Linked DNA regions of Homo sapiens. The protein of the gene in region 1 interacts with the protein of each later gene in a biochemical or structural test. Each region holds a gene or a part of one and is shown in the gene's direction. Other genes may lie near its edges. The genes, in order: CRKL, ABL1, MAP4K1 and BCAR1.

Evidence for each region.
Region 2: the proteins of CRKL (region 1) and ABL1 form a complex in vitro, tested with the Homo sapiens proteins (4 studies listed by BioGRID and IntAct, with this or other methods).
Region 3: the proteins of CRKL (region 1) and MAP4K1 form a complex in vitro, tested with the Homo sapiens proteins (2 studies listed by BioGRID).
Region 4: the proteins of CRKL (region 1) and BCAR1 interact in a test that uses a peptide from one of them, tested with the Homo sapiens proteins (2 studies listed by BioGRID, with this or other methods).

The regions. Positions count from the first base shown.
Region 1 is NC_000022.11:20,948,380-20,954,248, forward strand, and holds the end of CRKL (crk-like protein), read left to right. Parts: intron 1-1,331; coding exon 1,332-1,466; 3' UTR 1,467-5,368; downstream 5,369-5,869. UniProt on the Homo sapiens protein: May mediate the transduction of intracellular signals.
Region 2 is NC_000009.12:130,852,246-130,859,273, forward strand, and holds part of ABL1 (tyrosine-protein kinase ABL1), read left to right. Parts: intron 1-1,818; coding exon 1,819-1,992; intron 1,993-2,555; coding exon 2,556-2,851; intron 2,852-7,028. UniProt on the Homo sapiens protein: Non-receptor tyrosine-protein kinase that plays a role in many key processes linked to cell growth and survival such as cytoskeleton remodeling in response to extracellular stimuli, cell motility and adhesion, receptor endocytosis, autophagy, DNA damage response and apoptosis.
Region 3 is NC_000019.10:38,587,117-38,593,957, reverse strand, and holds the end of MAP4K1 (mitogen-activated protein kinase kinase kinase kinase 1), read left to right. Parts: intron 1-620; coding exon 621-676; intron 677-4,682; coding exon of another isoform or gene 4,683-4,780; intron 4,781-6,140; coding exon 6,141-6,210; 3' UTR 6,211-6,317; downstream 6,318-6,841. Other genes in the region: RYR1 (ryanodine receptor 1), read right to left, coding at 6,538-6,633. UniProt on the Homo sapiens protein: Serine/threonine-protein kinase, which plays a role in the response to environmental stress. Appears to act upstream of the JUN N-terminal pathway.
Region 4 is NC_000016.10:75,241,613-75,248,640, reverse strand, and holds part of BCAR1 (breast cancer anti-estrogen resistance protein 1), read left to right. Parts: intron 1-489; exon of another isoform or gene 490-581; coding exon of another isoform or gene 582-587; intron 588-5,550; coding exon 5,551-6,171; intron 6,172-7,028. UniProt on the Homo sapiens protein: Docking protein which plays a central coordinating role for tyrosine kinase-based signaling related to cell adhesion. Implicated in induction of cell migration and cell branching. Involved in the BCAR3-mediated inhibition of TGFB signaling.

The DNA.
Region 1 (5,869 bases):
TCTCAGTGCTAATTCCAGCTCTTCCCTTCGTGCATCCAAAGGGTATGATCATTAGAGGGGGCGTGGGGTTGGGGGATGGGTTCTATTCAGGAATCTCTACTCAAGTAACAATCATTTAATTACTGCAAGAACCTTTCAAAGTTGGAAGGAAACTGAGACTTGGAGAACTTAAGCAGTTTGCTACAGTCATGTAGTTTCTAAAAGTGGCAGAACCAGGACATTTGTTTGGTGTCCTGCATGCTCCAAAGTTCATGGCACGGACCATTGGACTGTGCCATAAAAACCTTATGCCTGTTTTTATTTTGAGATGTAGTCTTGCTGCGTTGCGCCGGCTGGTCTCAAACTCCTGGGCTCAAGCAGTCCTCCCACCTCAGTCTGCCAAGGACCTGGAACTAGAGGCATGTACCACGATGCCTGGTTCTATATGTGTTTAAGCAGACAAAAGCTTATTTCTTATTGTCTTAGATCTTAGGTGGGTCTTATATTCAAGTAGCGTTTTTATGGACCTAAGTACACAATACAGAACCTTAGATTAGTGCTCTGCTGAACAGAGTAACACCCTGTCTACAATGACTACCACCTGAAGGTCTTTTTTTAAAATACACCTTTTTGTGTAATTTGACTTTAACCATTCTCAGAATCATGTGTTCATTTCTATCCTGTTGGGGTTAGTGGCCAAAATAGAAGGTTGGTGTGGGGTGGGGAGCTGCTTTGTGCTCAAAAGCTGTTTCTGTGTGTGTGTGTGTTTTGATTTTTGTTTTTTTGAGACAGGGTCTCACTCGGTTGCCCAGTCTGGGGTGCCGTGGCACTATCACGGCTCACTGCAGCCTCAGCCTCATGGGCTCAAGCCATCCTCTCACTTCAGCCTCCTGAGTAGTTGGGACTGCAGTCATGTACCACCACACCCGGCTAATTTTTCTATTTTTTAGAAGAGATGAGGTTTCACCATGTTGCCCAGGCTGGTCTCGAACTCCTGACCTCAAGTAATCCCAGGAGTTCAAGGTTACAATGAGCTGTAATCGGGCCACTGCATTCCAGCCTGGGCGACAGACCCCGTCTATAAAAAATTAAAAAATAATGTGCATGGTGGTGCACGCCTGTAGTCACAGCTATTCAAGAGGTGGAGGTGGAAGGATCACTTGAGCCCAGGCGTTAGAGGTTACATTGAGCAGGGATCTCACCACTACACTCCAGCATGGCTAACAGAGTGAGACCCTGTGTCTAAATAATAATGTATGGGCCCTTTGGATAAGGTAGTGTTTGTGATTTAATGTAAACTGTCTTTTTCTTGTTGCAGAGAAATGCTAACTTTGTCTTCTTCATCCATACAGGTTGGTGACATCGTGAAAGTCACAAGGATGAATATAAATGGCCAGTGGGAAGGCGAAGTGAACGGGCGCAAAGGGCTTTTCCCCTTTACGCACGTCAAAATCTTTGACCCTCAAAACCCAGATGAAAACGAGTGATTGCTGTTGCCCTGTTTCCTGCTGCTTTGTTGTTCTGCCTGTCCTAGTCTCCTTTGAAGTGGGAAAGCATTTTCTCTCATAGGCAAGTCACACTGCATTGCCGAAGTCCAGCTTTCTGCAGACTGGCAGTCGCACACACATTTGGAATGCACACAGCGGCTGCCTCCTGATGTTTGTATCATAGTCGTATTGTCAAAGAGTAGCCGATTTTAGAGTTCTTTTGGATCATAAACTGGAAATACTGATGGAAGCACACAAGTGGAGAGAAGTTGACATGGAAAGGGTCTTCCTTCTCATTGCTGCCCGTTTGTACATGGGACTGATTCTGTTGTGTTCACCAGAGAAAGCTTGAGGCCATGGCGAGATACTGCATGTTTGCTGTTCCACAAAGCAGTGGCTTAGCTGCCATCTTGCTTTTCTTTGGACAACAGGAAGTGAACCTTAAGGAAGAGAGAATTCTGTTCTAAAACTCCAAAATCTGGCTTTTTTTTTTCTTTTGTTTTGGTTTGGTTTTGGAAAACTAATTAATTAGACTTGTGTGGGGGTTTTTTTTTGTTTTGTTTTGTTTGTTTTGTTTTGTTTTTTTGAGACGGTGTCTCGCTGCATCACCCAGGCTGGAGTGCAGTGGCGCAATCTCGCCTTCCTGCAGTCTCCGCCTCCTGAGTTCAAGCGATTCTCCTGCCTCAGCCTCCCAAGTAGCTGGGACTGCAGGCGCGCACACCACGCCCAGCTAATTTTTGTATTTTTAGTAGAGACGGGGTTTCATCATGTTGACCAGGCTGGTCTCAAACTCCTGACTTCAGGTGATCCACCCGCCTTCAGCCTCCCAACGTGCTGGGATTACAGCCGTGAGCCGCCGCGCCTGGCCTAGACTTGTGTGTTCTAAACAGGTTAAGTAGCAGGTTGGGTTTTTATGATAGTGCAAGGAATGACTCATGCCTCTGAGCTTCTAAACTGAAGCTGCTGTAACTAAAGGAATCTGAAAAGAACAACCCTGAAGCAGAGGCCTTTATTGTCTTGGTTGCCAGTAGTACCTTGTTTTGCCATGTAGCAGACAACACACAAAATAATGCAGTTGTGGTGTGCCATGCTATGTGCACAGCCCCTTGGATTACTTTGTTTTAAAAAGCATCAGAGTTGGGGGTACTTTAGGGAAACCTTTGCTTACCTTGTTTTGCCAGTGATAAGAGCAGTGGGTTGGAGGGCACTTGGCCAGTTTTCTGTTCAGCTTTTCAGTGAATGTACCCCTTTAAGGTTCAGACTTAAACTTCCTTAAAAAGTGGCGTTGTTCATAGAATCGTTGGACTCATTAATGAATCGTTCAACTCCACTCACTGAAGCCCAGACCTCCGTGCCCAGGCCCAATCTCGTCAGGCTGCCAGAGAAAGTTGGTGCTGCTCATACTGGTCTCACAGTCTAAGTAAGTGTCTGTGATGCTCCCAAGCAAAGGAAATGCAAGCTCTGGAAATTCGTTAATGTATTTGATGTCTTAGTGTTTTAGTGACTAGGGAGACCATTAACTAGTTTATCATTAACCACTTATCAGTGTATTGATGTTAAAGCATTTCCCTGTTAGCTAAAAGAGGCCTGTTCATACAAGCCAACTGGTATATACGTGTGGTTCATCCATCATCTGCTGCACATAGCAGACTAGAATTCTGGGAACCCTGTGCAATTCAGTCTGCTCTCCCTTGTGGACCCTGGTAAAGAAAAGCCTCAGCTCATAGTGAACACAGCAGACCTAGAAATGTAGCAGCAGCCTACTGAGTAGCTTTCATTTACTGATCATCTGCTGTGACTGTGGCCCTGTCTGGAGGTTCCTAGGTTTTGAGATTTAGAGCAATGCATTCTGGAGACAGAACCAGCAGAACAGCCATTTTTCAATTTTTCTTTAAATCAGTATTCCATCAGGCAGATAACTGCTGTATTCATGAATCTTGAGAGTGTTCCTGAGACAGAATTAATGGTCATTTGGGAAAACTATCGCCATGGCTTCCCATCTGTGGTTTTCCTCTAAAAGCCTTGGAGATTAGCCCTTCCTTGCCAGTGAGAACGGTGACCGCCTCCTGCTCTGCACGGTCTGCGGCAGTTGCCGCTTCTGGTTAGGTGTGTCAGGTTGGCTTATTTTGGGTTCAGGCCTGGCGTAGCACCCACAAGTGGCAGACATATCACAAGAGTCCCCAGACTCTGCCTAGAAACAGTGTTTGCCCTTTGGCCAGTGACGTGGTTCATCCCGGCCCATGTTGAGCCATGAGTGGAGTTTCCAACAGAGGGAGGAATGTGTGCCTTGTTCAAGGAGGGCACGACCCTTAGGCCTTTTTCAACCAGATTTAGCTGAAGGGCTTGACACCTTTGAATTACAGCAGTTGACTCAGAGTGCAAGAAGTCTGGCCATTTTGGAAAGCAAGGTTTCCTTTCAGCCCTGTCTACTGACCAATACCCCGACTCACCTTGTGTGGCGCACTTCAGAATCAGATATACCTAGAGTATACCTGTGGTTTGGTTTTATAATTAATCAGCTCGTTACTTCAGCCCATGAAAATGGCATCCAGGGCTGCCAGGAGATTCAGAGCTCAAAACAAGGCGAGCTTGAGTTCTGCACTCCAGATATGTGCCAAAACTAGTAAAACTTAACGGACTTACAACCTTGTCAGTTTTTTTAATGAGGCAGGGATACTCTGTTTTTCACACTAAACATATGAATGCAGCACTGCTGCCTCAGCTCAGCTTCGTGCCTGGGTTCCCCACTGGTCTGGGAAGACTGTTGTGCTCCATAGAGCAGTGCACATCTGACCCAGAGGGTGGGTGTTCATAACTGCTACTTGCTCTGCTCTACCATGTTTAAAGAAATATTTGGATGTTAAATTAACTCACTATGGTTTTTCACCTGGGAAGGAAACAAATTACGTACTAGAGGGCATTGACTGGTTAAAAACTTGTGTATCCCGGGAAGGACCTGCGGTACAGGAGTCAGCCATGTCTGTGCTGTGTGGAACCACCTGATGACATGGTTAACGAGGAAGACGATGTGTTGACCGGCTGCCGTTTGAGGACTTTGGTCACCCAGACTAGACACCTTCTGTGCTCATGTTTGGAAAGCTGAAAGGGAAGGACAGCTGTGCCCTCCTGGGAGCTCATGTGTCCCTGGCGCTGTGCTAGCTTTCCTTTACAGCTGTTTACAGACAAGGCAGGCCTGAGGCAGATGGCCACTGCTCTTGTGATGTTTGCTCAGAGGAATATGAACATTTTATTTTTGAAAAGGGATGATGTGGTTTTTTGCCAGGTGTTTATAATTAATCCTTTAATATTATGGTTATTAACCTCTTAAACATGAATGAATTCTTGATTGTTTTAACACAGTACCTAAGACTAATGCTTTCTGTGGACACCACTGAGCTCTGCCTCAACTCCACCCTCTGCGACCGGAGGACTATGCCCCTAGTAACTGCTGTCGGTGTGGACGCTGTGCTGGTTCTGTTTTCTAAAGGAGCAGAAGGACAGGTCTCTGAGACAGGATCGTTGTCCCTACAGGAGGAACAGTGGCCTTGCTTCTTAGACGGTCTTCACTGTGTGTTTTAAAACAACAACAACAACAACAACAACAACATAAAACTCTTTTGACCTGTAACTTAAAGATCATAAACTTCAGGCAATAATATTTTCTGTGTAAGCTTTTAAAATTATTTTTGGGGATCATAGCTTGTTTTATTTTGTGCTATAAAATTAACAGTATTAAATGACTTATATTCTTAGAATACATCGAGTGTCTTTTCTTAACAGATTAGTGCCTTTTTATTTTTGTATTCCGTTTTACGTTACTGGTCCCAGCATCAAAACCCTTGTTTCCATGGCCTGTTTGTATATTGTCTCAATAAAACTTGCATCAGCCGGTGGTGGCGGCAGCTTCGGTGTTTCAGTGTCTCCTCAGTCCGCCCCCACTAGCCTCCTGGCAGTTCATCAGTGGTGAAATCTCTGATGCTTCTCAGAGACCCTTAGTGCTGCTGCTGACCAAGAGCTAGAATGAAGTCTTGGCATCCGCCCATTCCAACACTCGGGCACCCAGAGGAGAGCACCTGGGGTCTCCCTCCAAAAGAGAAATCTGCCTCCCAGAGTGTCTGTCTTGTAGGTATTGTATGGGAGCCTAGTGCTTGGCCTTCTGAGCATGAGGCAATAGTTCCCACAGGTTGCACCACCACAGAGAACTTGGATCTTTTTCCTTCTAGGCACCCATATCTGAGGCTTCTAGTAAATATTTCTTCAGCATGAGCTAACCAGGGTTGAATGGTATCAAGCAGAAGTCATGGGAAGTGAGCAGCCTCATTGCAGGTCAGGGCATGATATCTGTGCGGCTTTCTTGAATCCTTTTCTGTTCTTGGCTGTAGGTGGTTCTCCTGATGAACTTT
Region 2 (7,028 bases), on another chromosome or scaffold:
GAGACGAGATCTCAGCTCACTGCAACCTCCGCCTCCCAGACTCAAGCGATTCTCCTACCTCAGCCTCCTGAGTAGCTGGGACTAGTAGCTGGAACTACAGGCGCCCGCCACCATGCCCGGCTAGTTTTTTCTATTTTAGTAGTGACGGGGTTTCACCGTGTTGCCCAGGTTGGTTTTGAACTCCTGAGCTCAGGCTCAGGCAATCTGCCTGCCTCAGCCTCCCAATGTTCTAGGGTTACAGGCATGAGCTACTGTGCCTGGCCCAGTTAGTGATTTTTAAATTGTAGTTCCTTAAATGAGTATTTTGGATTTCACTCCACAATGTTCTTCAACTGTAAGATCTACTTGAGGTTATTTGATTTGCTGGTTTGCAAGAACTCGTCTACACGTTGTCTTTATCACAAAGAAATTCTGGAGCGTTTGAGCCCTGTTCAAAAAAAAAAGGCAAGAAGAAACTTCAGGAACAAATAACCTATTTGACCCTGTAATGAATAATATTCACACATTTTCTAATTTAAGAGCTGTTGATTGATTTCCAACTTTTAGAATCTGTTTCAGACAAAACATGGAAGTTTAGTAACAGTTTTTTCTATTCTGTAATAATAATTGCCACAAGGTTAAAAAAAAAAATTTACAGAAGAACATATTTGAGGGTGGTCGTGGGGGCAAGAAAGCTGGAAGGACGGGTGGGGTGTGTTAATAGCCTTGTCTTGTGAAGTAAGTCCTCAGAGACGCTGTCCTAGTTGGAAGAACAGGCAGTGAAGGTGTGCGTCTGTTACGGAGAATAGGACTCCAGTGATCTAGCTGGTACTTAGAGAGGTGGGGGTGATCACCAAAAAAACAGCTCTGCCTCTGGGAGCGGAGAGGACTGGGATAGAAAGTATTTGTCTTTCATTTTAAGCCCTTCTGTACGATTTGACTTTTCTTTTTTTTTTTTTTTTTTTTTTTGAGATGGAGTCTCACTCTGTCACCCAGGCTGGAGTACAGTGGCACGATCTTGGCTCACTGCAACCTCCGCCTCCCAGGTTCAAGCAATTCTCCTGCCTCAGCCTCCCAAGTAGCTGGGACTACAGGCACCTGCCACCATGCCCGGCTGATTTTTGTATTTGTAGTAAAGACAGGATTTCACTGTGTTGGTCAGGTTGGTCTTGAACTCCTGACCTCATGATCCACCCCCGGCTTTTTTTTTTGACACGGAGTTTCTCGTTACCCAGGCTGGAGTGCAGTGGCGCAATCTCTGCTCACTGAGACCTCCACCTCCTGGGTTCAAGCGATTCTCCTGCCTCAGCCTCCTGAGTAGCTGGGACTACAGGTGTGCGTCACCATGCCCGGCTAATTTTTGTATGTCTAATGGAGACAGGGTTTCACCATGTTGGTCAAGTTGGTCTCAAACTCCTGAACTCAGGTGATCCACCCACCTTGGCCTCCCAAAGTGCTGGGATTACGGGCGTGAGCCACCATGCCCGGCTAAAGCAAGAAATTTTCATTGCATATTTTAAGCAAAGGCAAATGCATATGTGGATAGACTGTTTTAATTTGACTAAAGTCATATTGAATCCATGAATTTTAGAAGCTCAAACTATTGGGGAACAATAATTACCACCTTGGAGTGAAAATACTTAATTTCCACAAGATTTAGTAAAGGAAGAGTTTTTTAAAAACCACCTTAATGATAATAGTATGTACAGATGTTAAGAAATGAAATAGGAATGTGTAATGTTGGAAACACAAATATTTTTGCTTCTGAGAATAAAACTAATTTTTTCTCCCAATTTTCTCTTCCTTTTTCTTTTTTCTGTTCCCCCCTTTCTCTTCCAGAAGCCCTTCAGCGGCCAGTAGCATCTGACTTTGAGCCTCAGGGTCTGAGTGAAGCCGCTCGTTGGAACTCCAAGGAAAACCTTCTCGCTGGACCCAGTGAAAATGACCCCAACCTTTTCGTTGCACTGTATGATTTTGTGGCCAGTGGAGATAACACTCTAAGCATAACTAAAGGTAAAAGGGTTGTGGGCAGCTAGTGGTGGTTGCAGGAGATAGAAATCTGGGAATTGCGGTTTGACCTACCACCCTTTGCTCGTTAAAGGAGCAGCTTTGAAATCTGGACTGCAGGGATATCCAAAACAACAACTGCATGTTTCTAAGGGAGTCGACTCTCCTTAGAGGAGTTCTTGTACAATAGCCCTGGGCAAAAACAGAACTTGCCCTATTTTTTATACTGAAAAGGACAGCTGGACAAAATACTGAACGCAATTTTTCCCCTAAGAAAAAGCATTATTTCCCTAAAATGTCTTATATTAGGAACAGAGCACTTGAATAAACATAATTGATTTATAAAAACTGAGGCTATACACTTACCTATCTGTTCAGTACAAACAGGAAGCTTCAAATGTAAACGTGAATTCTCATACACTTATAAATGCATATCTTTATGTGGACTTGTTAAAATGAAATTGGTATTTAGGAATTTGGAGATTTTTAGTAGTTACACAAGAATCAATGAAAAAGAACGAAGCTGGTTTCCAAAGCTGATATGTCTGATTTGGTTCCTTTCTTCTCAGGTGAAAAGCTCCGGGTCTTAGGCTATAATCACAATGGGGAATGGTGTGAAGCCCAAACCAAAAATGGCCAAGGCTGGGTCCCAAGCAACTACATCACGCCAGTCAACAGTCTGGAGAAACACTCCTGGTACCATGGGCCTGTGTCCCGCAATGCCGCTGAGTATCTGCTGAGCAGCGGGATCAATGGCAGCTTCTTGGTGCGTGAGAGTGAGAGCAGTCCTGGCCAGAGGTCCATCTCGCTGAGATACGAAGGGAGGGTGTACCATTACAGGATCAACACTGCTTCTGATGGCAAGGTAGGGGACCCTTGGCAGGGGGCGCTGATGGGCCCAGGGCAGGGGAACCAGAGGTCCTGCTGTCGGATTGATAAATTATTGCAAGAAAGCTCAACCAAGAAGATGTTTAAAGAATCTTTCAGGTGGGAGTCATTCCATTAGCCTTATGAAGACCCTTTATTGAGGATCCGTTCTGTGATATTACAAGTTCCTGGGACTGGTATGATTCTCTTATTGTCTTGCTAGAGTTTTGTTGTTAGCAAGTTACTTAAAATAGGAGGAATATCTGTTGGGTTTTGGACACATTTTTTACAATAAGATTCTTCCTTTAAAAAAAATATTTTATAATGATAGAAATCATCCCCAACGAGAAAAATTCAAATAATAGATAACCTTTCTTAGAGCGAAAGACCACTTTACTATCCCCTCCCCCACAGACGCCTGGCACGTGGGCTTCTTCCTGCGGATGAACACATTCATGGAGAGGTGTGTGGACATACGTGCATACACGCATGCAGTTTTCAGTGAAAACCGGGATCAAACCCACAGCTTACCAAACCCAAAGTGTGGTGTTGTAAGGGAGGTGGCCTATATGATTTTGTGGTCTTCATATAAATAATCCTTAAGAGTCCATAAAGAGAAGGGAGGAGTTAACATTGACTGAGGTATTGCTATAATACCTGCATCTTTGCATTAAAGAAAGGGAGGCATAAAGAGATCTTGCCCGATGTCAACCTAGTGAGTCACTGATGGAATAGGCTTGGATCCCACAGTTTATTCTACTGCACCAGGCTGTAGTTGAGGTACAGTGTTGATAGGTGGTCCCGATGGTGTATGTTTGTTTGTTTGTTTGTTTTTGAGATGGAGTCTTGCCCTGTCACCCAGGCTGGAGTACAGTGGTGCGATCTTGGCTCACTGCAACCTCTGCTTCCCATGCTCAAGTGATCCTCCCACCTTAGCCTTCCGAGTAGTTGGGACCACAGGCGCACACCACCATGCCCAGCTGTTTTTTGTTTGTTTATTTGTTTTGAGATGGCATTTTCGCTCTCATTGCCCAAGCTGGAGTGCAATGGTGCGTTCTCGGCTTACTGCAACCTCCACCTCCCGGGTTCAAGCATTTCTCCTGCCTCAGCCTTCCAGGTAGCTGGGATTACAGGCATGCACCACCACACCCAGCTAATTTTGTATTTTTAGTAGAGACAGGGTTTCACCATGTTGGTCAGGCTGGTCTCAAACTCCTGACCTCAGGTGATCCACCTGCCTCAGCATCCCAAAGTGCTGGGATTACAGGCGTGAGCCACCACGCCTGGCCGTTTTTGTATTTCCAGTAGAGACAGGGTCTCGCCATGTCGCCCAGGCTAGTCTCAAACTATTGAGCTCAAGCAATCTGCCCTCCTCGGCCTCCCAAAATGCTGGGATTACAGGCACGAGCCACTGTGCCCAGCCTATATTTTTTAAATAGTATGTAATGCATGCATATGGTTAAAAAAAATCAAAAGAACAAAATGAATTACAGTAAAAAGTAATCGTCTCCTAATTCACTTTTCCTGCCCAGAGGCAAGCACTGGTACTAGTTCCTTCTAGAGTTACCTGGACACAGATGGATGGTATATAGATGTTTATGTGGATGTTTATATTCAAAAAGGCACGCAAATGATACATGCACGCGAATGCATCATGCTTCTCCCGTGTGATAATACACCTTCGAGATTGTTTTATGGCAACAGGTTTAGAGCTGCCTCATTCTTACCAGTGACTGTGTACCGTGGATGGACTGTCACTTATTTCAGTAGTCCCCTGCTGGTTGACTTTTAGGTTGTTTCCAATCTTTAGTTATTGTAAATAATGCTGATATGAGGTGGCTTTCAAACCTTTTCAAAAATCTGGTTCTGCTGTAAGAAAAACTCATTTTACACCACCACCCAGCCCTCACAATATAACAAAAGTTTCATGAAGTCTTACCTACCCTTACTGTATGTAACGCACTCTGATAGTTTGTATTTCATTCTGTTCTATTTCATTTTTTAAAAATTCTGGTTGTAATCCACTAAATTTATTTCATAGACTGACTAGTGGCCCATGGCCTGGTTTGAAAATGCGTTGCACGTGCTTCTTTATGTGGGTGTAAGTGTGTGCAGATAAGTTGCCAGAACTGACTGAAGGTTATGTGCATCACCAGGTCACCCTCTATAGAAATTGTACAAATTTGTTCTCCCACAAACAATCCATGAAAGGGCTTGTTTCCCCTTAACCCACACCAACAGTTTATTATTAGACATGTAAAAACACCTTTGTCACTCTGACTGGTAAAGAATGGCATCTCATTATGTTGAATATCCATGTGGCATATTTTGGGTCATCTTTATGCCATTTAGTAAATTCATCTTTTTCCTACATGTTAGAAATATACCAAGTGTATATGTGTATCTAGGCCTGTTGACCTCTCTGTTCTCTTCCATTGGTCTGTCTATCCGTATGCCAGTACCAAACTTGTAATTGCTATGGCTTCATACCATGTTGTGGTATCTGATAGGCTAGTCCCCACTTACCTTTTTAACTTTTTTTTTTTTTGGCTGTCTTCACACATTCACTTGTACCATATGAACATACATATACTTCCTTTTTAATGTTCTTATTTTTCTTCACATCCCAAAGTCTTCTGGCTGAAATCCTATTGCCCATATCTGATGCTTTCCACCACTGCAGAATTCTTTAGTACCAACACTGCAGTGTGCGTGACGGACAAAAGAGCCTGTTATCCCTGTGTGACTAGACGTGGGCCTGTCAGCTTGCTTTTTGGGTTATTGTTCTTATCCCAGAGGTGGAGCTGCGTTCTTCCATTCTGAGGGACGTACTTCAGGACATTGGGCCCTTTGAAAGAGCCTTCAGACCACAAGGGTACCTTTCTAGTGAATCAGAACACCAGGGTGCACCGCCCATGGGGGGTGATTTTCTGGAGCAGACAGCTTGCTTCCCATGTGTGCTATTTATCCAAGGCAAGTCATGCTGCACCGAGATAGTCACTTGAGGTTTGCACCGAACAGGATAATGGTTTCTTTTCCCTAGAGCTGTTTAATCAGCAACCTTGGAACAGATGCAGGCAGGCATGATCTAGTGTGACAGCTCATTAGCTAGGGGTTGATCTAAAATACTGTTCAAATGGGCAAGGAAAGGCCTGCGTATGGGATATGTGATTTGCAGAATTTGAGATTCATCCAAAGAGGGAGAATCTGCCTAAGATGCCTCTGTCTAAAAGCTAGTATGTGCCAGGTGGGTTTGTTTCATTCCAGGTAGAGCACAGGGAGCTTATGTGACCAGGCAGTGTCCACCATTGGGCAACACATCACACTTCCCTTGGCGTCTTGCCTCCTCCCTCCCCGTCTGGCACAGACTCTCCCATCAGCCGTTTGGGCACCTGGGGACTTCTGAGCCCACAGCGTCATCCAGCAGACCGTCTGCGGAGGTTCCTTCCTGTGAGGGCCGCACTCGAGGGGGTGTATTGGGTGGGATCGTATCACTGGAATGAGTGAACATCGTTAGAGGGAGCTCCCACAGCTATGCGTGTGACCGTGTGGCTCGCCGCTGAAAAATGCTGCTCACATAGCAGAACTTCGATGCAATCCTTTTTGGATTTCTAAGGGGAAATTTTAAGACCGATAGGAGGAATAGGCTGGGGTTGAATAAGTTTGGTTCTTATTTTTAAATTAGCTCATCTTTAGAAAACAACTGAATTTAGAAGATTCTTCTGTAAGGCCCCAAAGGATTTCTTTCTGCCTCCCCGCTCTTGGCTCTTATTTGTGTCTCTCCTCGTGTTCTGAGCTTTTCAGCAGCCCTTGTGGGTCATCAGCCGAGGACCATCAGCTCGGGGCCCAGAGCTGGGGACTGGGAGTTATGAGCTGGACTCTTGAAGGGGCCAATACTAAACCGAGCCGTTGCCATTTCCTAGGAGCCTTGACAGGCTCAAACATCTCTGGGTACCCGGGGATTTGACTGTCATTGTTCTGATCCTTTCCCAAAGTTGTAACCCTCTGTTGACATAGCGGAATTGAAGATTGATTTTTCTTCACCACCTTCTGCCTAAAGTTCTTAGTTCTGAATGTGTCCACACCTCATTGACTTCTATGAGATGCCCCTGTCACGTTCCTCGATTCCTTCTAGTCCTTAATAGAGTCTTTCCTTTTCTTGAAAGAAATTTGCC
Region 3 (6,841 bases), on another chromosome or scaffold:
CTGTGTCAGACTTTGCCCTTACACTTTAGTATTTTTATTTATTTATTTTTGCTCACTCAGTTCCTTCCCTCTTTTTGAAATGGAGTCTCGCTCTGTTCCCCAGACTGGAGTGTTAGTGGCACAATCTTGGCTCATTGCAACCTCTGCCACCCAGGTTCAAGCGATTCTCGTGCCTCACCCTCACAAGTAGCTGGGACTACAGGCATGCGCCACCACAGCTGGCTAATTTTTGTATTTTCAGTAGAAATACAAAAATTATCTCAGCTGGAGATCTCGGCTCCAGTGGCACGCCCAGTGGCGCAATCTCAGCTCAATGCAATTTCTGCCTCCCGGGTTCAAGTGATTCTTCTGCCTCAGATCCTGAGTAGCTGGGACTATAGGCGCGCACCACCATGCCTAGCTAATTTTTGTATTTTTAGTAGAGACGAGGTTTTGCCATGTTGGCCAGGCTGGTCTCGAACTCCTGACCTCAGGTGATCCACCCACTTCGGCCTCCCAAAGTGCTGGGATTACAGGCGTGAGCCACCGTGCCCAGCTCCTTGCTGTCTTTAAGGGAGCCATGTTCGTAGTGACAGTGGAGGTATCTTCCAGGCACTGAGACACACACTTTTTTTCCCTAGCTGCTACAGGAGCTGAGAGACCCTACCCTCACTTTCCGTCTGCTTGGCTCCCCCAGGTATGTTGTGGGGTGGGGTGCAGAAGGACCTGGGAGGGGGCTTCTGATGTGAAGAGAGCATTCTGAGGTGTCCCCAGCAAGGTATCTCTAGCCTGGACAGTGTCTCACCTGGTCACCCTGCTTCCATCCCTGCTCCCTAGAGTCTGTTCTCTGCACTGCAGCCACGGGGGCGTTCTCTCTTTTTGTTTTGTTTCTCACTGTACTCAAAGGCTGGAGTGCAATGGCACGACCACGGCTCACTGCAGCCTTGACCTCCCAGGCTCAAGTGATCCACCCACCTCAGCTTCCTGAGTATCTGGAACTACCGGCATGTGCCACCATGCCCAGCAATTCTTTTATTTATTTATTTATTTATTTATTTATTGAGATGGAGTTTTGCTTTTGTTGCCCAGGCTGGAGTGCAATGGTGTGATCTTGGTTCACTGCAACCTCTGCCTCCCAGGTTCAAGCGATTCTCTTGCCTCAGCCTCCCAAGTAGCTGGGATTACAGGCATGTGCCACCACACCCGGCTAATACTATATTTTTTAGTAGAGATGGCATTTCACCATGTTGGCCAGGCTGGTCTCGAACTCCTGACCTCGGTGATCCACCTGCCTCGGCCTCCCAAAGTGCTGGGATTATAGGCATGAGCCACTGCACCTGGCCAATCCTTTTATTTTTTAATTTTAATTCTTTTATTTATAAAATTTTTTTAAAATTTATTTTTGACACAGAGTCTCGCTGTGTTGCCCAGGCTGGAGTGCAGTGGCACAATCTCAGCTCACTGCAACCTCTGCCTCCCAGGTTCAAGTGATTCTCATGCTTCAGCCTCCCAAGTAGCTGGGTTTACAGGTGTGTACCACCACATTTGGCTATTTTTTGTATTTTTAGTAGAGACGGGGTTTCGCCTTGTTAGCCAGGCTGGTCTCAAACTACTGACCTCAGGTGATCCAGCTGCCTTGGCCTCCCAAAGTTCTGGGATTACAGGAGTGAGCCACTGCACCTGGCCTTAATTTTATTTCATTTTTGAGACAAGGTCTCATTCTGTTGCGCAGGCTGAAGTGCAGTGTTACACACACAGCTCACTGCAGTCTTGACCTTCTGAGCTCAACTGATCCTCCCACCTCAGCCTCCCAAGTAGCTAGGTCCACAGGCATACACCACCACAACTGGCTAATTTTTAAAATTTTTTTGTAGAGACGGGGTCTTGCCATGTTGCCCTGGCTGTCCTTGAACTGCTGGCCTCAAGCAATCTTCCTACCTTGGCCTCCCAAAATGTTAGGATTACTGGCATGAGCCACCACACCTGGCTGCATTTTTTTTTTTTTTTTGAGACGGATTCTTGCTCTGTTGCCCAGCCTGGAATGCGGTGGCGTGATTTCAGCTCACCACAACCTCCACCCACTGGGTTCACGCGATTCTCCTGCCTCAGCCTCCCGAGTAACTGGGATTACAGGCATGTGCCACTGTGCCCGGCTAATTTTTGTATTTTTAGTAGAGACAGGCTTTCGCCATGTTGTCCAGGCTGCTCTTGAACCCCTGATCTCAGGTGATCTGCCCGCCTCGGCCTCCCAAAGTGCTGGGACTACAGGCATGAGCCACCGTGCCCAGCCCTGGCTGCATTTTTATTTTAGATTTTTATCTTATTAAAAATTTTTAACTATTAAAAATAACTATTTTAACTATTTTGACATAATTTAAAACTCACACTCCCAGAGAAGTTGCAAAAATCCCTTTTATCCAGATTAACCAGATCTTTTTTTTTTTTTTTTTTTGAGATGGAGTCTTGCTGTGTGGCCCAGGCTGGAGTGCAGTGGATCTCCACTCACTGCAACCTCTGCCTCCCGGGTTCAGGCAAGTCTCCTGTCTCAACCTCCTGAGTAGCTGGGACTACAGTTGCACACCACCACGCCCAGCTAATTTTTTTGTTTTTTTAGTAGATGTGGGCTTTCATCATGGTGGTTAGGCTGGTCTCGAACTCTTGACCTCAGGTGATCCACCCACCTCTGCCTCCCAAAGTGCTGGGATTACAGGCGTGAGCCACTGTACCTGGCCAGATGTTAATCTTTTTAACCGCATTTGCCTTATTATTCTTTTTTTTTTCTTTTCTTGAGACAGAGTTTCGCTCTTGTTGCCCAGGCTGGAGTGCAATGGCATAATCTCAGCTCACCACAACCTCCCACTCCTGGGTTCAAGCACTCCTCCTGCCTCAGCCTCCCGAGTAGCTGGGATTACAGGCATGTGCCACCATGCCCGGCCTCTTCTCTTTCTTATGCGCACACACCACACATACAAGTATATGTGTGTGTGTGTGTGTGTGTGTGTGTGTGTGTGTGATTTTTTAATGAATATTTGGGAATGAATTGCAGACGTGATGCCCATTTACCCCTAAAATACTTCAGTGTATGTTTCCTGAATCAAAGCAAGGACATAATGTTACAAACCACAGCACAGCTGTCAAAATCAAGAAAACAACACTGAAACATCACAACCTTCTAATTCATACCCCTACTCAATTTCACCAGTTGGCCAGGTGTGGTGGCTCACGCCTGTCATCCCAGCACTTTGGGAGGCTGAAGTGGGCAGATTACCTGAGGTCAGGAGTTGGAGATGGGCCTGGCCAACATGGAGAAACCCCACCTCTAGTAAAAATACAAAAATTAGCTGGGTGTGGTGGCACGTGCCTGTAATCCCAGCTGGGAGGCTGAGGCAGGAGAATCACTTGAATCGGAGAGGTGGAGGTTGCAGTGAGCCGAGATTACGCCACTGCACTCCAGCCTGGGTGACAGAGCGAGACTCTGTCTCAGAAAACAACAACAACAACAACAAAAAATTTCACCCGTTGTCCTAGTGACGCCCGTGATTATATATATATATATATATATATATATATATATATATATATATTTTTTTTTTTTTTTTTTTTTTCTGGTCCAAGATCATAGGTGGCACTTAGGAGCCATGTTTCTTTATAATTAAGCCGGAAAAAATAATTAAAACTTCTTTTGTCTTAAAGGAGCTTTGACCTTTTTAAAAATTAAAGGAAATTTGTTTTCTAAAATGTCCCTTAACTGTGTTTGAGGTTTCCACGTTCTGAATTTTGGGCAGGAATACTGCAGAAAGATGTCTTTCTCAGTGCATCATTTCAGGAAGTACACAATGCTAGTTTGTCCCATTACTGGTGATATTAACTTCGGTCATTTGGTTAAGGTAGAATCAGCCAGTTCTCTCCACTGTGAAGTTGCTTTTTTCTCCCTTTTTCTTTTTTTTTAAAGATAGATTCTCTCTCTGTCACCCTGGCTGGAGTGCAGTGACGCGATCATGGCTCACTGCAGCCTCGACCTCCTGGGTTCAATCAGTCCTCCCACCTCAACCTCCCGGGTAGCTGGGATGACAGGCGCGTACCACTACACCTGGCTTATTTTCGTATTTTTTGTACAGACAGGGTTTCGCCATGTTACTTAGCCTGGTCTGGAACTCCTGGACTCAAGAGATTCACCTGTGTAGGCTTCCCAAAGTGCTGGGCTTATAGGCAGGGGTCACCGCACCCAGCCTCTGTTTTTCTTTGTAATAAGAAGTATCCCACCGGTCGGGCGCGGTGGCTCACGCCTGTAATCCCAGCACTTTGGGAGGCCGAGGCAGGTGGATCACCTGAGGTCGGGAGTTTGAGACCAGCCTGACCAATGTGGAGAAACCCTGTCTCTACTAAAAATACAAAATTAGCCGGGCATGGTGTTGCATGCCTGTAATCCCAGCTACTCGGGAGGCTGAGGCAGGAGAAGCGCTTGAACCCGGGAGGCGGAGGTTGCAGTGAGCCGAGATCGCGCCATTGCACTCCAGCCTGGGCAACAAGAGTGAACTCTGTCTCAAAAAAAAAAAAAGAAGTATCTTTTGGGGAGATTCACTGAGACGAGGTAAATAGTCTGTAAATACGTTGTTTCTCATCAGATTTTCACCCACTAGTTTTATTGTTTTTTGTTTGTCTTTTGTTGTTGTTTTGAGTCAGAGTCTCACTCTGTCCCCCAGGCTGGAGTGCAGTGGCACGATCTCGCCTCACTGCAACCTCCTCCTCCCAGGTTCAAGCAATTCTCCTGCCTCAGCCTCCCGAGTAGCTGGGATTACAGGTTTGAGCCAACGCACCTGGCCTGCCCACTAGTTTTAGAATCAATTGATTTTTCCCTGAATCTATTATTGTTAGGTGGCTACTAACAATAAATGGTGATTTTCTGATTCTATGTTTCCTTCTGCGTGTGTTAGTTGGCATTCTACTCTAAAGAAGAGCTGTGTCTTCTCCATTCTTCTTTCTTTATACCAGCATGGTCTCATGGATTTTTATTCTGTGGGTTATAGTCTATTACTGTCATTATTTATTTATTTATTTATGAGATGGAGTCTCGCTCTGTCACCCAGGCTGGAGTGCAGTGGTGTGATCTCAGCTCACTGCAACCTCTGCCTCCCAGGTTCAATCGATCCTCCTGCCTCAGCCTCCCGAATAGCTGGGATTACAGGCGTGCACCACCATGCCTGGATAAATTTTTTTTTTTTTTTTTGAGACAGAGGCTCGCTCTGTCGCCCAGGCTGGAGTGCACTGGCGCTATCTCGGCTCACTGCAAGCTCTGGCTCCCAGGTTCACGCCATTCTCCTGCCTCAGCCTCCCGAGTAGCTGGGACTATAGTGCCTGCCACCACACCTGGCTAATTTTTTTTTGTATTTTTAGTAGAGATGGGGTTTCACCGTGTTAGCCAGGATGGACCTGGATAATTTTTGTAGTTTTAGTAGAGATGGGATTCACCATATTGGCCAGGCTGGTCTTGAACTCCTGACCTCAAGTGATCTGCCCCCCTTGGCCTCCCAAAGTGCTGGGATTACAAGCATGAGCCACCATGCCCGGCCTTGTCATTATTTATTTTGAGGCACAAATGGTCTTAAATTTAGCCAGTGGGAACCACTTTAAGTAGCCCCTGTGTCCTTTTGACATGCCAGAAGGGTCACTTTAAATCCAAATCTGATCGTGTCACTGTCTCCCTGCTTAAAATCCTCCCATGGCCTCAAGATAAAGACTCAATCCTGGCCACAGCCCACAAGGCCATGACATCTCCAGCCAAGTCCCAGCCTTTCTCCCACCTCAAATCCTTTGCACAGGCTGTTCTCCCCAGCCAGAACACTCTTCCTTGCCCTTTCACCAAGTTCCCTCCTAACCCCCCTTCAGGCTGCACCATCCATTCTCTGGGGAGTCTGGGCTGACCTCCTGGGTTAGGTTTCCCTGCCAGACATGCCATGCTTTTTTGCACTCATGTAATTCACTGATTCATGTTGATCTCCTTCTCTAGAATGCAAGCTTCCTAAGGGCAGGGACCGTGTCTGCCCATTCACTGCTATAGTTCAGCATGGGGCTGGCACAGTCTCTATTAACTACTTTGTGAATTAATGAATCAATGAACATATGAATGAATAAATGAACTGACTTATCTCTTCCTTCCACAGGCCTGTAGTGGTGGAGACACGCCCAGTGGATGATCCTACTGCTCCCAGCAACCTCTACATCCAGGAATGAGTCCCTAGGGGGGTGTCAGGAACTAGTCCTTGCACCCCCTCCCCCATAGACACACTAGTGGTCATGGCATGTCCTCATCTCCCAATAAACATGACTTTAGCCTCTGCTGTCATCTTGTTTTTCTTGGGGGAAACAATTCCTGGATGTCCACTCCTCCAAAATTTCAGCAGGCCAACACAGTGATGCTGGGGGGCGTAGCACAGATTTATTTTCCAGTACTAGGTCACCTCTCCCCCAGCTGCCTTAGGGGGAGGGGCTTGGGGACTAAGGGGCTTGCTGTGAGAATAAGGCACTTGAGGTGGGGGTGGAGGGCCAGCTGGGGGTGTGTCAGCTAAGCTGGTCCTCATACTGCTTACGGAAACAATCACCAGCTGGGAAGAAATCCCAACATCTCTCTTGGTACATCTTCCAGACATAAGACTCCTAGGATTGGGGATAGAAAGAGTTCATTGGTCACATCTTCAAACCCTTGAGACATATATATATATATATTTTTAGACAGGGTGTTGCTCTGTTGCCCAGGCTGGAGTGCAGTGGCGACAATCACAGCTCACTACAGCCTCCTGGCTCAAGCGATTCTCCACCTCAGTCTCCAGAGTAGCTGGGACTACAGGTGCACACCACCACCCCT
Region 4 (7,028 bases), on another chromosome or scaffold:
GAGCCCAGACCCTGGCCACCCTGTTGTTGTGGGAGTATTAGGGGAAGTTGCCACTAAGGCTGGCAGGTCCTGGAGTTCCACCCAGGATGGGGACATGGGGGAGGGAAGAGGAGGTGCCCCTCAGAGCCTGAGGCCAGGACCAAGTGGGGTGATCAGGACCCCTCCAGGTGGGTCCCGGGTGCGGATGGCCAGTTGGGCGCATGCTTATTGGGCCTGCATCCGTTGGCCACGGAGGCTCTTTGGGACAAGCAAATAGAATGCCCCAGAAATAAACTTGGCCCAAGTTTGTGATGGTTCTGGGTATGAAAGAAGTCAGTGTTTCCCAAGTGCCTGCTATGTGCGAGGCTCTGTGCTGGGGCGGGTGCATGTGTGCGTTGGGGGCGTGGACAGGAGGGGTGGGAAAGGCCTGTGACATTTCCTCTGGTGGTTTCCACGAACCCAGGCGTCACCCCTCGGTGGAGATAAAGTGGAGCCACCCAGCTCCACCGTGTCTCAGCCTGGGGTCGGCCTCTGCTGCTTCTGGACTCAGTGACCCTGGGCTGTCAGGGAGCTTCTGAGCCTTGGTTTTCCTGTCTAGTAAGATGGAGGTAATCGTGTCTTATGGGGTTGTTTTGAGGGTTAAATGAGCTGGTGGCTGTGTGGGAAAGAGCTCTGCCTCCCGCAGGGAGGAACTGTGCTGTTCTTATTATTGTGAACTTAGTGACAAGTGTGGCACTATTACCCATTTCCTTGTCTGCCCCCAACCCTGGGGTCTTGGGCAGAGAACAGGAGTTCTTGCCATTTTCTCCCAGCTCCCACCTTGTGCTGGCTTGCGGGTGCTGAGGTCATATTTGCTGGGTGAAAGGGTGCAGGCCAGATATGAGCCAGGCCTGGCAGAGAGGGTTTTGGTCAGCAGTGATACCTGCAGTGTTCTCTGCAGTTGGTTTGGGCTGGCCCTGCTCCTGAGAACTCCTGGGTTGTCCCTTCAGGCAACCAGGGAAGGCTCCTTGGAGCAGCAGCATCTCCCCTTACCACTCGCCGACACCAGCTTCCGCCTGACCCAGAGAAGGAGTTTGGGGACAGCCACAGCACGTCCAGGGCTCCCAAGGCAGCTGGCAGAGCCAATGAGGAGACCCCAACACCCATCCGACGGCTGCAGCTCTCCCTGACGTGTGTCACCCGCAGCCCTGGTCCCAGCCGCTGTGCTTCTCAGGGCCTGCCTGCCCAGCCCGGGTGGATATGGTGCCCAGGCGGGCCCCGGGGACACAATGAGGGCCATTCTCAGAGCCAGGCAGAGCGTGTGGGGCAGTCCTGTCAGTCCTATGTGCAACAGCTGGGATATTGTTTAGGGAGTGCTGGCATCAGGCTGGGGCTCTCCTCCTCTGGCCCTGCCCTTTGGGATGAGCAAGCCCCCAAAGGCCTTCCTGGGTTCCTCTGGTGCACGTGCCCTGGAGTTACCCTTCTGAAGGAGGTAGACTTGTCCTCCTGTCCTGGGTGCCTGGGGTGCAGGGGTGTGAATTGGGCTATGTCAAGATATGCTGGGCAGTACTGTGAGGTGGGGGCAGAGGGGAGAAGGTGTCCCAGGAGGAGCCTTCCTGGAGGGGATGATAGTCCAGCATGTTCTGAAGTGGGAGTAGGGTGCGGCAGGAGTAGGGTACCAGAGAATGAGTGAGTCAGGCAGCAGCCTCCACTGCGCCTTGGACACAGGTGGCTGACAGTGTCCACCTGGACTGGCTTTGCACCCCTTCTGAGGTCACAGTTGTGTCCCTTGAAAACTTGGGCAGGAGCACCTGACTGGCCCAGCTTGGGTCATGCCCTAGGCCCAGCAGTGCGGGAGGCCAGGAAAGTAGGCTTGGGGAGGCTGGCCTCTCCTCCAGTTTGAAGCATGGCAGGGGTTCCGGGGGAGGCTGCTGGGGGGCCTGCGAGCATGTCCAGAGCAGGAATGCTTGGGGTGGTGTGTGCTTTGCTCGTCTGGGCTTATCTGGCCGTGGGGAAGCTGGTTGTGCGGATGACGTTCACTGAGCTGTGCACGCATCATCCATGGAGTCTGCGGTGTGAGTCCTTTTGCCGCTCCAGGGTCACAGCCTGCCTCCCTGCTCCAGCCCCCTGGCTGAGGCCCTTCCTCTGCCCCATGCTCTTCTCAGACAGGAATCCTGTGGAATGTCATCTCTTTGGGGAGGCCGTCTCTGACCCTGTATGCAAAGGCCTTCTCCCACATTATTTTTGGCACCCCACTTTCTTCCCCGTGAAAGCAAATTGTTTGGTGTCTTTCTGTCCCACTACAGTATAGGCCCGGTTCAGACAGAGGCCTTGTCCACTAGGCCTGCGCTATCTCTGCGGAGCCCAGCCAAAGCAGGGGCCAGGCGAATCTTTTGTTAAAAGAACAATGCGCGCTGGGCACAGTGGCTCACGCCTGTAATCCCAGCACTTTGGGAGTCCGAAGCTGGAGGATCACTTGAGCCCAAGAGTTTGAGACCACCCTGGGCAACATAAGGAGAACCCATCTCTACACAAAATTAGCTGGGCGTGGTGGTGTATGCCTGTAGTCCTAGCTACTTGGGAGGCTAAGGTGGGAGGTGGCTGAGGTGGGAGGATCACTTGAGCCTGGGAGGTTGTTGCAGTGAGAGCCATGATCGCGCTACTGGGCAATAGAGCAGAACCCAGTCTCAAAAAAAAAAAAAAAAAAAAAAAAAAAAAGAACAATCCTATGAAATGAGGGCTGTCATCCAGCAGAGAGGATCTAGATGCTCAGAGAGGCTAAGGGATTTGCCCAAAGTCCCACAGCCGGGCCCAGGTCTGAGTCTGCCTAGTGAGGAAGAAGGAGTGCATGTCCTTAGGGAACAGAACAGGAGGCAGAGAGGCCCGGAGAGGCGGGGGCCCTGGCCAGCTGGAGTGGTCGGTTGTGTACCAGCAGCGTCCAGAGCTCAGGCTGGGCGGGGGCACACCAGCTGACGCAGGCGGGGAAGCTCCTGGTGCCAGGCGCCTGGTGCCACGTGCCCAGCCTGTGAGATGCTTCCCAGCCTGGCTTCAGCGGCCCCAGACTGGGCTGTGGCCGATCAGTGAGCTCATGCCTGGCAGGGCTGGGCTGTGAGGCCAGAGGCCCCAGCCGCTCACCTGGGCCGGGCTTTCCCTCCCTGCAGGGCCCTTCCCTCCACAGAGCCCCCGGCCTCCCTGCCTGTGCTCCCTCAGCCTCTCTGAGTGCCTGGCCCTGCCTGATGGGGCCTCTGCCAGCCTTTCCTGGGCCACCCTCCTAGGAGGTGAGGGGCCTTCGCGGGGCGGTCCCCTCTGTCTAAACCCCCACCTTCTCTGACTTGGCTGGAGGGGAATTTTCCTGTGACTCACTCTGCTGGCACTTCCTGTGGTCACCAGGGCAGGGGCTGGGGGACCCGGAGGGGCAGCTCTGTGGTGTGTAGGGTCACTGGGGAAGGGTGGCCCGCCCCCGATGGGCTGTGATTCCCAGAGGCAGGCTGCAGACCATATTTGGGAAATGCTTGTCTTGCTGGCCGCCTGGGATGGGGGCCCTGAGCCCGGTGGGCTGCAGGACAGCCCCCGCCCTCCCGCTCCTCTGTGGGGCTCTGGCCCCTAGACCTGCCGCACTGCCTGTCCCGTCCTGCCTCAGAGCCTGGGACATAGTCCACCGTTTTCTTTTTTTTTCTTTTTGTGTAGTTTTTCAGCCCCAAAGCAAGAAACACTCATTCCTGAAAAACAGGAAGAGAAACTATCTCCATTGTCTCAGACATCTCTGGTGTCTTCCTGACCCTCTCTTGTCTTTACGTTTCACAGGACATTTTCTTGAGATGTGCTTTTCACTTGAGTGCCTTTTTCATTTTGTTGTAATCATGGTGTGGACAGTGTTGCAGCCATCCAGGGCCTCTGCCCTTGTGCTCACCTTGGCTCCAATATGACTCCACCTGGGCCTGCCCTCTCCTAGCTGCCCCCTGGCCCCTCCCTTGGGCCTTGCTCCTCCTGGCTCTCCACACTCCAGCCTCTGGCCCTTTTAGGGACTGGAGGCTCCTAGCTGCTCTGGAGAAATGGGCTCCCTGCTGATGATGTCCACCCAGGGCAAGTGAACCATGGGGTCTGAATGTCTGATCCTGGGACCTGGGGCAACTACTGCCTACCCAGGCCGCTGCCTGGTATGCCATCGCCCTCTGATGCCGGCCAGGGAGATGGCGCTCAGAGGGGCACTGTCCAGCCCCTGCTCATATAGGGGAGGAGGGTGGGCCCTAGGGACTTGAAAGAGGCCTCACCCCCACTCCTCTGCCCCAAGGCACAGGCTCCTGCTTCCTGTTTCTGCCCAAGGGGGCGTGGCCCTTTCTTCCTTGTTTCACTCCTTGCAGATGGAGTCCAGAAAGTGGGACTTGGGCCCAAGTGGGGATGGTCACACAGCTACTGGCTGGCCAGAACCCAGGTCCCATTTCCGAGTCAGAGTCTCGACCAGGCTGCACATCTAAGACGCCAGGAGACTCTGAGGAGGGACCTTGCAGGGCAGCCCAGAGCTGAGGCCAGGCTGGTGGGGTGGCTGGAGCCCAGTGCCGGTCACTGTCCAGCCAGCCTGGCACTGTTCTCACACCCGGCTTCCCTGTGTGTGAAGTCTGGGGCCCCTGTGGAACCCATGCAGCCCTCTGCTGCCCTAGGAGGGGCCGCAGCCCTGGCCTTGTCTCACCCCGTGCCTCCCTCACACCTGCCTTTTGCTGCAACCGCCCACACCCTCCAGCCAGGGATCCTCTGTCTCTCTGGGCCCATCCTGCGCCTGGCACCTCGATGGGGCAGCAGCGGCAGGGGCGAGGATGCATGAGTGTGTGGTGGGAAACTGCGAGGCCTCCCTGCCTGGGCTCTAGTGTCCCAGCGAGGCTCCGCCCCTGCCCTCGCCACGGCACTCATGCCTCTGATCCCACAGCCTCCTCCAAGTCCCTCTCGGACTGCTTGGCTCCTGGGCCACATGGAGCACGTACCCGGCTCTGCAAGGGTTTGCTGAGGGCGACGGGGCCAGGACAGGGAGGGTGTGCCTCCTGTTTCTTTCCCAGCCTTGGGGAAGGTGTTTGAAGTTTCTAAATTAATTACTGACTTTTTGGATTTGGGGTAGATAGACTTTGTTAAGGAAGCTCTGTCTTATTGTTGTTCATTTTTTTATCCTAAGAAGCTGTTCTTTTTGTCAGATTATTTTCGTGCACCTCGAGAGAGAACCATTTGCTATTTGTTTTAACTTGGCAGCTTTGTCGTGATTACTGCCGCTCTCCTTGTGTTGGTCCAGGTAGCAGAGTGGCCTTGGGTGGGGCTTTTAGGGATATCTTGAGGGTCATCCCTGGAGTTTTGGTGGTGACAGTGGTCAAGAGGATTTTGAGGTGCTATACAGGTGCAGTTGAAAGAAAGGCCAGGATCAGCTGGGCCTTTCTGCTGGGGAACAGGTGGGGACAGTGGAGGCAAAGGCACAATGATCTCGCCAAACTCCACTGAGTTCTTTTCCTAGTATCAAAGCTGGGCACCTCCCCAGAGCAGGGCAGGAGCTGGGGAGCCCCTGACGCCCCATGCACATCCTTCTGTTCTCACACCTGTGTCCTCTCTCCCCAGAACGTGCTGGCCAAAGCGCTCTATGACAATGTGGCCGAGTCCCCGGATGAGCTCTCCTTCCGCAAGGGTGACATCATGACGGTGCTGGAGCAGGACACGCAGGGCCTGGACGGCTGGTGGCTCTGCTCGCTGCATGGGCGCCAGGGCATCGTGCCTGGGAACCGCCTCAAGATCTTGGTGGGCATGTATGATAAGAAGCCAGCAGGGCCTGGCCCCGGCCCTCCCGCCACCCCGGCCCAGCCTCAGCCTGGCCTCCATGCCCCAGCGCCTCCGGCCTCCCAGTACACGCCCATGCTCCCCAACACCTACCAGCCCCAGCCAGACAGCGTCTACCTGGTGCCCACTCCCAGCAAGGCTCAGCAAGGCCTCTACCAAGTCCCGGGTCCCAGCCCTCAGTTCCAGTCTCCCCCAGCCAAGCAGACATCCACCTTCTCGAAGCAGACACCCCATCACCCGTTTCCCAGCCCGGCCACAGACCTGTACCAGGTGCCCCCAGGGCCTGGAGGCCCTGCCCAGGATATTTACCAGGTGCCACCTTCTGCCGGGATGGGGCATGACATCTACCAGGTCCCCCCGTCCATGGACACACGCAGCTGGGAGGGCACGAAGCCCCCGGCAAAGGTAAGGCTGTCCTGGCACAGTTGTGCAGCCACACAGGTATAGCCCAGGCCCTGGTTTGTGGGCACAGAAGGGTCCAGCCACCCTCAATCACCGGCATTCCAGGAGTGGCTGTGTGTTTGGTCTGGGGTCAAAGTGGGAAGTGAGTGTTTGGGGGGTGTTCATTTGTCCGGGGAAGATGGATGTGAATGGACCCAGAGGGGAGATGCTCCGCTGGCCTCAGCCAAGCCGACCCGAGTGGTGGTGTCACCAACCACAGGGAGCAGCCTGTTGAGGCGTTCCAGTGGGCAGGCGGGGCTTGGCACATGGGGTCGGCAGTTGCTGGGCCCCCGCAAGGGAGAGGCCAGCCACTTCATGCTCAGGCTCCCCTGTGCCATCTGGGTTTACGTGTCAGCCTCTAGATGGGGTTCCGGCACATCTTCTGGCCGCCCCTGCCTCCACAGGCCAACCCCTCTCCACTTATGGAACATGCTAGGGGCCAGCGGGTGCGTATGGTGATCTGGATGTGACTCCTGGGAGGACGCTGCCCCTGAGATTGCTAGAGGAGGACTGCCCTGAGAGCCTCCTGGGCTCTTGCTGATGGGATGCTGGGCCTGGGGACAAGACCTCTGGCCTCCAGACCCTGAGCCCGCTTCCCAAGTCCACAGGGCCCCTGCCTCCCAAGCTCACCTGCCTGTAGGAAGGAGTCAGCACTAGACACTCAGCCCAGGGCTGAGGTGGAGACCTCATTGGTGCCAGCTGGGCAGCGAGTCAGCTGGGAGTTACCCCCACCCCCGCCCATGGGTGGCCTGGTACCCAGGAGGCATGGCCGGAGGTCGTTGGCGGGTGGGGGACTCCATGGACATGGGCCACCAAGCCTG